Homo sapiens: one gene and its partner. The protein of the gene in region 1 purifies or fractionates together with the protein of each later gene. This does not show direct contact. Each region holds a gene or a part of one and is shown on either strand. Other genes may lie near its edges.

Evidence for each region.
Region 2: the proteins of TM4SF20 (region 1) and CYP4F3 purify together in Homo sapiens (affinity purification with mass spectrometry; one large-scale study listed by BioGRID and IntAct). This does not show direct contact.

Annotation. Positions count from the first base shown.
Region 1 is NC_000002.12:227,376,996-227,380,911, reverse strand, and holds the start of TM4SF20 (transmembrane 4 L6 family member 20), read left to right. Parts: upstream 1-1,605; 5' UTR 1,606-1,643; coding exon 1,644-1,826; intron 1,827-3,916. UniProt on the Homo sapiens protein: Polytopic transmembrane protein that inhibits regulated intramembrane proteolysis (RIP) of CREB3L1, inhibiting its activation and the induction of collagen synthesis.
Region 2 is NC_000019.10:15,639,192-15,643,107, forward strand, and holds the start of CYP4F3 (cytochrome P450 4F3), read left to right. Parts: upstream 1-1,705; 5' UTR 1,706-1,754; intron 1,755-2,120; exon of another isoform or gene 2,121-2,223; 5' UTR 2,224-2,224; coding exon 2,225-2,422; intron 2,423-3,916. UniProt on the Homo sapiens protein: A cytochrome P450 monooxygenase involved in the metabolism of various endogenous substrates, including fatty acids and their oxygenated derivatives (oxylipins).

The DNA of each region.
Region 1 (3,916 bases):
ACCCCCTAGTCTGGAGCTACTGTTTTGGTGTCCATTACCAGGGATGCCCCTTGTACCAGGCTGTGTGCGCCCCCCACACTGCTGCAGGGTGGAGCGCTGCTCTCTAAGCCTACTACGCCTGAGCTTTTGGCCCACACTGACTGCACCGCTGCATACATTATTTCACCATTCCCAACAGCACTCACTGAATCTATGCTCTGGGCTGAGCGGGGGATTACACAGAAGCAGAAGGAAGGCGCTGTAGAGATTAGAGCTGCCTAATGTCCCAATCTTTTCTCCTAGACATATTGGTTTGTATTTCCACCCACTTGAACTCATGCATAACTGAGTGACTTTTTTGGCCAATGAAATGTGAACAGAAGTGATGTGGGTCGCTTCTGGGCAGAAACATATAGATCCAGTATGTGGCTCACCACATTTTTGTACCCTGCCTCTGTGACTGTGGAAGCCTGGATCAAGAAGCTGCCTCTGCCAGTCTAGGTCTAGGTCTAAGTCTAGGTCTTTCAGTAACTACCATGACCCCATTTAGATCAGGATGGTCAGTCAGCATAAGCAAGAACTTTTGTATTGTTTTTGTTTTTTGAGATGGAGTCTCCCTCTGTCGCCCAGGCTGGGGTGCAGTGGTGCAATCTCAGCTCATGGCAACCTCCACCCCCCAGGTTCAAGTGATTCTCTGGCCTCAGCCTCCCAAGTAGCTGGGATCACAGGTATGTGCCACCACGCTTGGCTACTTTTTGTTTTTTTGGTACAGATGAGGGTTTTGCCATGTTGGCCAGACTGATCTCGAACTCCTGACCTCAGGTGATCCTCTCGCTTTGGCCTCCCAAAGCACTGAGATTACAGGCGTGAGCCACCGCAGCTGGCCAGAACTTTTGTATTTTAAAGCTTATGCCAACTGATAGTCTTTTCTCAAGGAGCTCACCAGCTAGTGGAGAGGCAATGTGGAACCACAGTCTAGAGATGTAAAGTACTGCACATGGCCAAGTAAGTGTTCAAGGGCTTAAATAAAATATGATAATCTCCTCATCCAATCTCTCTCCTATTGCTATCTTTCAGTCTGGTAGCATTAGCCAAAGCTCTCACATGTCTTAGGTGGGCTATCTCTAAATGGGTTAGTCTGCAACACTGGAATAATATGACATAAACATTTTCTTTTGTGTATGTGAGCATACGGCTTGAAATAAACTCTAATATTTGCAGCAGAGGAAATACCTTTCTCCACATCTCATACGTGTTCATTTTCTTGTTGAACAATTTCAAAATAAGAAACTTCCATAGCTGGTAATAATATCGATAGAACAGGAAAATATAGTTTAGCTGGATATTTTTGTTTTTACTTTTTAGAAGCCATACTAATAAAGGAGTATATTAAAGGAGCTTATCGTAAGCCTATCTTCTTACATAAATTTATCTCATAGATTTTTTTTTCTGCTTTCCTTCCTTCACCTCATCATAATATGGAATTATTTTCTCATTTCCCATCATAGTCATCATAATAATGTCCTACCCTATTGGACTCTGAACTATTTTCCACTATTCATTTTTTATTAGCGTTAAATTTTAACCAGAAGATTGGGATAAAAGGCAACATAGTACCATGCAAGCATAGCCACTTTGACAACGTTTCTGAGCCAGGGGTGACCATGACCTGCTGCGAAGGATGGACATCCTGCAATGGATTCAGCCTGCTGGTTCTACTGCTGTTAGGAGTAGTTCTCAATGCGATACCTCTAATTGTCAGCTTAGTTGAGGAAGACCAATTTTCTCAAAACCCCATCTCTTGCTTTGAGTGGTGGTTCCCAGGAATTATAGGAGCAGGTCTGATGGTGAGTGATATTTATTTGACTTGATGTGAAGAAGGGCCTGCCTATTTCACCAAAATCCTAAAAGCTGTCTTCCAGTCTTGCAGTTAACTATGTCTTGGCTTATGATAAAATTTGGAGCAGTAGTATGGCATTAATTTATATTGGTCATCAGTGAAGAATGGTAATTTAAATAAAGTACACTATGTGGTATAGGATAGAGAGCTGGGCAAAAAAATAAATTAATTAGTAGAAGTTGGCTGGGTTATTATCTCTCACATTTCTGTACAGGTAGGGCTGCTCTTTCAAGCTTTGTGGTTAGAGTTAGGGACCTTCTGAATTAATTCCTTCAACTTTCCATTGCTCCATACCAGTCTCTAAGTATTTACAGAAAATGCAATAGGAGTGACAGGTTGCTTAATAGGGATGAGTAGAAACATTCCCATGTATGATGACTAGCCTGGGTGATGGTAATTACGAGGCATGAATGCTGCATTGCCTGTACCTGAAGGGAGTTGGGCTAAGAGACATGGACTTAAAATCCTGGGTCTCTGGCCTCAAGGAATTTTTGACTCAGCTATTATATAGATCCTAGGACATCGAGCTTGTTGAATAGTTTGGTGATTGTTACTAGGTCTACCTCTGTTGAAATCTGCAGCAGAGCAGTGCAGGATGGAACTCCTAAATATAACTGACATGAATCACCCGAGGCACTTGCAATAGTTAGATTTACGGATTTTCTCCTGAGAATTCTGGGTGCAGTAGGCCTGGGTAGGACGCATTTGTATAGGGAAAACGGCTTTCAAATATGGCAGAATACCTCAGCTATGGTTCTGCCTCCCATATACCACTGCAAGCAAATCATTTATCCTATGGTTTTGTTTCCATATGTGTAAAATGGGGATGTGGATGTTGAAGTTGATAATTCAGCATCCAAGAGGCTTGTTTTTGTTTGTTATGCCACTAGGGGGTTTAGTTAGTGCCAAATAAATGAATGTGTGTGTGTGCCTGTGTGTGTGTGTGTGTAAGACAGAGAGAGAGAGAGAGAGTAAGCTGTAAGGACTGATATTATCAGTGTTTTAGAGATAATAAAACACGGAGGTGACTTTTTTTTAACTTTTTTTTTTAAGTTTTCAGTTCAGAGGTACATGTGCAGGTTTGTTACATAGGTAAACGTGTATCTTGGGGGCTGGTTGTACAGATTATTTCGTCATCCAGATATTAAGCCTACTACCCATTATTTATTTTGCCTGATCCTCTCCCTCCTCCCACCCTCCACTCTCCACCCTCCAACAGGCACCAGTGTGTGTTGTTCCCTTTTATGTGCTCATGTGTTCTCATCATTTACCTCCCGCTTACAAGTGAGAACATGCGGTTTTTGGTTTTCTGTTCATGCGTTAGTTTAAGGATAATGGCCTCCAGCTCCATCCATGTCCCTGCAAAGGTCATGATCTCATTCCTTTTTTATGGCTGTGGAGGTGATTTTTAAAGAAATTCAGGACATAGTTTTCTACTTGAATCACTGATTCTGAATTATGATCAGTTACTGCTGCTGGTATTATCCCCAGATTTACAAAAACACTCTTCCTTTACCATCACAAAGAATCTGTTCCTCTGCTTTAGGTAGAAAGATCTAATTAAAGAAAAAGCTTTTGGAAAGTTTTGGGCTATTTCTTCACACTGCCATGAATGCTCTCTTCCAGGCTGAGAGACAGAAAACACATTGCAACTCAACAGCATGAAGCAACTGTACATCCGTGTGTCTGTTTTCTTCCCTGTAGAAGGCTTCTCTCTGCTTGAGTAGTAGAAGCCTCTTTTGCATTTGCTTACACCAGAAGCCAGGAGCAGCTGGCTGAGCATGACTTAACGATAGCAATTTCCATGAAGCTCCTAGAAGTTCCTGAGTTAAGACAATCCACTTAGAATAACACATGCAGCTTTAGATATAAATTGGCTCTGCCACAAATCCCATGAGATTAAAAAAAATGTATTAGCATTAAAGGAGTCGGAGGTGGCGATGACACATACCTACATCTCCTGTATTCTTCATTTTAGGATGGTGGCGGGTGTGGCAGGGAGAGAAGAGAAAGAGAAAGGCAGAGACAGACAGAAGG
Region 2 (3,916 bases), on another chromosome or scaffold:
TTCTCCTGCCTCAGCCTCCCGAGTAGCTGGGATCATAGGTGCCCGCCACCACGCCCGGCTAATTTTTGTATTTTTAGTAGAGATGGGGTTTCACCATGTTGGCCAGGCTGGTCTTGAACTCCCGACCTCAGATGATCTGCCTGCCTTGGCCTCCCAAAGTGCTTGGATTACAGGCATGAGCTACTGTGCCTGGCCAGTAGGCACTCTTTATGTATTGCAGGTGGTACTGAGTAGGCACTTTTTATGTAGCGCAGGCAAGAGTAGGAACTCTTCATGTAGAGCAAGCAGCACTCAGTAGGCACCCTTTATGTACAGAAGGCAGCCCACAGTAGGTACACTTTATGGAGCACAGGCAACACTCGAGCAGGCAGCACTCAATAGACCCTCTTTATGTAGATCAGGAAACACTCAGTAGGAAGTCACCATATAGAGCAGGTGGTATCAGTAGGCACTGTTTATGTAGAGCACTTGGCACTCAGTAGGCATGTGTTATGTAGACAGCAACTGGTGCTCAGTGGGCACTCTTCATATACAGGGGGTGGCACTCAATAGGCACTCACTATGTAGAGCAGGTGGCACACAGTAGGCACTCTATGAGGAATATCAGGAACTGAGTATACAGGGTTAATGTAGAGCACCTGGCACACAGTAGGCACACTTTATGGAAAGCACTTGGCACAGAGTAGACAGGATTTAGCACCTGGCACACAGTAGCTGCCCTTCATTTAGAGTATTGGCACACAGTAGAAGTACTTTCCATGCAGCCTTTGTGCAGAGTAGAGACTGGCACACAGCAGCTCAAGTGCTAGTTGCCACCCTTTCCCTTCACTCCTTTTTGGGGCTCCCTCCTCTTAGGAGCCCTCATTGTCCCCCGCTAAGGCCCTCATCGAACATCCCATTTCCCAGATGGGAAGACTGCACCCAGGAGGGGCAGTACTGACCAAAGTCAGAGCAAGGATGAGGCAGAATGAGGACTCCATTCATGGTTCCCTGGCTCTGCCCTTCCCCTGCCTGGACCCCATCCGTTCCCTCTCATCCTAACCCTCCACGTCCCCGCTCTGTCCTCCTATACTGAGTCCGGCCTCCAGATTTGCTTTTCCAGCTGAGCTCTTAATCTCCAGAATCTGACCCAGGTAATCCTCAGTGGGGCTGGATTCTTTGTTCCCGTTCCTAGCAGTCAGGTCTCCAACAGGGCCCTGGACTGCCTGGAGGCAAGACTTGAACTCCATCCAGCAGCAGGGGGATAGAGGCTTGTCTCTTCCAGGTTGCCTGATTCAGCATCCAGAAGTGGTACACGGTGTCCTACCGGCCCAGGGTTAGAGAGGAGCACAGGAGATGATCTGGAACAAGGCTTGGCCTGGCCTGGCTCGCTTGACACCTGAACTCTCAAGTTCATGCTTTTATCTGCCACACACTCAGTAGGTGCTCTTTAAGAGCAGGTGTCACACAGTGGAAACTCTATCTGACCCCTCTCGGCTTACTCTCCACCTTATGTGGGAGGTGCTGAGACCTGAGGATCCAGTGCCTGTGCTGTGTCACCCTGAGCTGGTTCCTCTGCATCCAGCTGGTCTCCCACACCCAGGTTTTGGCCAGCTGCCCAGACATGGGAGCGGCACCCAGGCTGTGGGGATTGGCTGGCCCAGCCCAGCCCAGCCTAGCCTCCCACAGCCTTCCCTACATCAGGGGCCAGGGGAAAAAACCTCCCAGAAGAAGGGGAGAGGAGGTTGTGTGGGACAAGGTGCTCCTGACAGAAGGTGCCAGGGTGGGGGTGGTGGGCCTGGGGCATCCTAGCCTGTGATGGAGATGGGCACTGGGCAAGGGATTGGGCGCACACATAGGGGAGCCCCAGCCTTCCCACATTCTCCATTGCTGCCCAAGGCCCAGGCAGCTCCTGGTTGCTGGCTTGGAGGATGAGTGGTTTTCTAACTGAAACCAAGCCCCTGGCAACGTCCTAATGATTCAGGCTGGGCCTTTCTGGACTTTAATCAGTTTCTCTGTCTTTCTCAATCTAAGTGCTTACCGGGTAACTGGAGGCCACTTGGTTGCTGGTTTTGGCTGGGCCTTTCTGGACTTTACCCCTCAGCCCCTGTTTATCCATCCCTGTTTACTCTTACTGTTCTATCTCCAGCACTGCCCGTCTCTGCCTCTCTCCACTGTCCCTGGAGCTCCCTGGGCCCTTCCCTGGGCCTCAGGACCTCACTCACCACCCCATCTGCCCTGCAGGATGCCACAGCTGAGCCTGTCCTCGCTGGGCCTTTGGCCAATGGCAGCATCCCCGTGGCTGCTCCTGCTGCTGGTTGGGGCCTCCTGGCTCCTGGCCCGCATCCTGGCCTGGACCTATACCTTCTATGACAACTGCTGCCGCCTCCGGTGTTTCCCGCAACCCCCGAAACGGAATTGGTTCTTGGGTCACCTGGGCCTGGTGAGTGTGGCAGCAGGACGGGTCTGGGGTCTCAGGGTGGATGGACTTCCTGAGGGGTAAGAATGAGGCTCAGGTGAGAGGGGGTGGGCTGGGGTCTGGGGTGGCAGAGAAGCAGGGGAGGCGTCTTACTCATTCCTCTGCTTACTCATTTCTGTGAGGTGCCAACCCAAGCCCTTCTCACCTCCCTGTTCTCCCACTCTTGGCCTGTGTTGAATCCTTTTCCTGCCTGTCTTTCCACATTAATGCACCTCTGCGGGGCTCTTGGGCAGGGGGTTGGGTGCACAGAAAGGTGAACCCCTGGCGTTCCCACATTCTCCATTGCTGGACTCGAGGCCTCCTGTACCCACTGTTCAGGGTCCTCTCCCTACCTGGCCTATTTCCTCTTATGAGGGTATAGGTGGGCCAGAGGAGAGGTGTGGGCTGTCTCTCACCTCCACCACATCCGGAGGCACCTTCCTCTTATCTTGTTCCTCCCCAGTAAGATGTCCCAATGGGGTCCTGTTGCCAAACCCACATAAAAGTTGGCCACTCACTTCCCCTTTCAGAAGCCTTCCCTGACCTTTCTCCTCCCCCAGACCTTGCCCTCTGACTTAGACCTGCTCTCCCCTTTGCGGAACGTGGTCTCAATCTGCTCATTGCAAATGGCAGGATTGATGGGTGTGTCCACAGGTGAAGTGGGAGGGTGCACAGGATGCACTAGCACAGAGCCTGGTGCAGAAGCTTCTCCCAGGTGGGAGCCACTGTCATGATGGACAGTTAGAGTCACCTCTGCTCCCCTAGTGACTGCTGAGAAGGGAAGGTCCCCTGTGTGCAGAACCTTCTCCATGGGAGGAACTGGAACCTGTGTGGCTGGTGGAGGAACCAGCCAGGGCATGAAGGGATGTGGGGACCAGCCTTAGGGACATGTCCTGAGTCCACACTGCTCCCCACAAACCTCCCCTGTGAGGACCTCCTCATATGCCCACCTCTGGGCTGAAATGACTCCCAGAACAAGGAAATTTTTCCTCTCAAGCTAAGTGGGCCTCTGTGAGTGGACAGTGTGTCTTTTCCTTCTGCCTTGGGATGCGCTCTTGGGACTTGGGGGTGGCCCCAAGAGAGATAGAGCAGGAGGAATGTAGACAGATAGATAGGTAATAGGATAGATGGATGGATGGATGCACAGATAGGGTGAATAGATGGCTGGCTGGCTGGATAAGTAGGTGGGTAGATAGACAGATAGATAGATAGATAACAGGATAGATGGATGGATGGACAGATGGATGCATGGATAAGATGGATGGATGGATGGATGGATGGATGGATGGATGGATAATACATACATAAAGTAGTAGATAAGATGGATACATTAGGTGGATAGATAGGTAGAGTGGATATGTAGGATGGATAGATTAGATGGATGGATAGATAGCTAGATGATTGATAGATAATAGGATAAATGGATGAGTGGATGAATGTACAGATAAGATGGATGGATGGATGGATGGATGGGCAGAT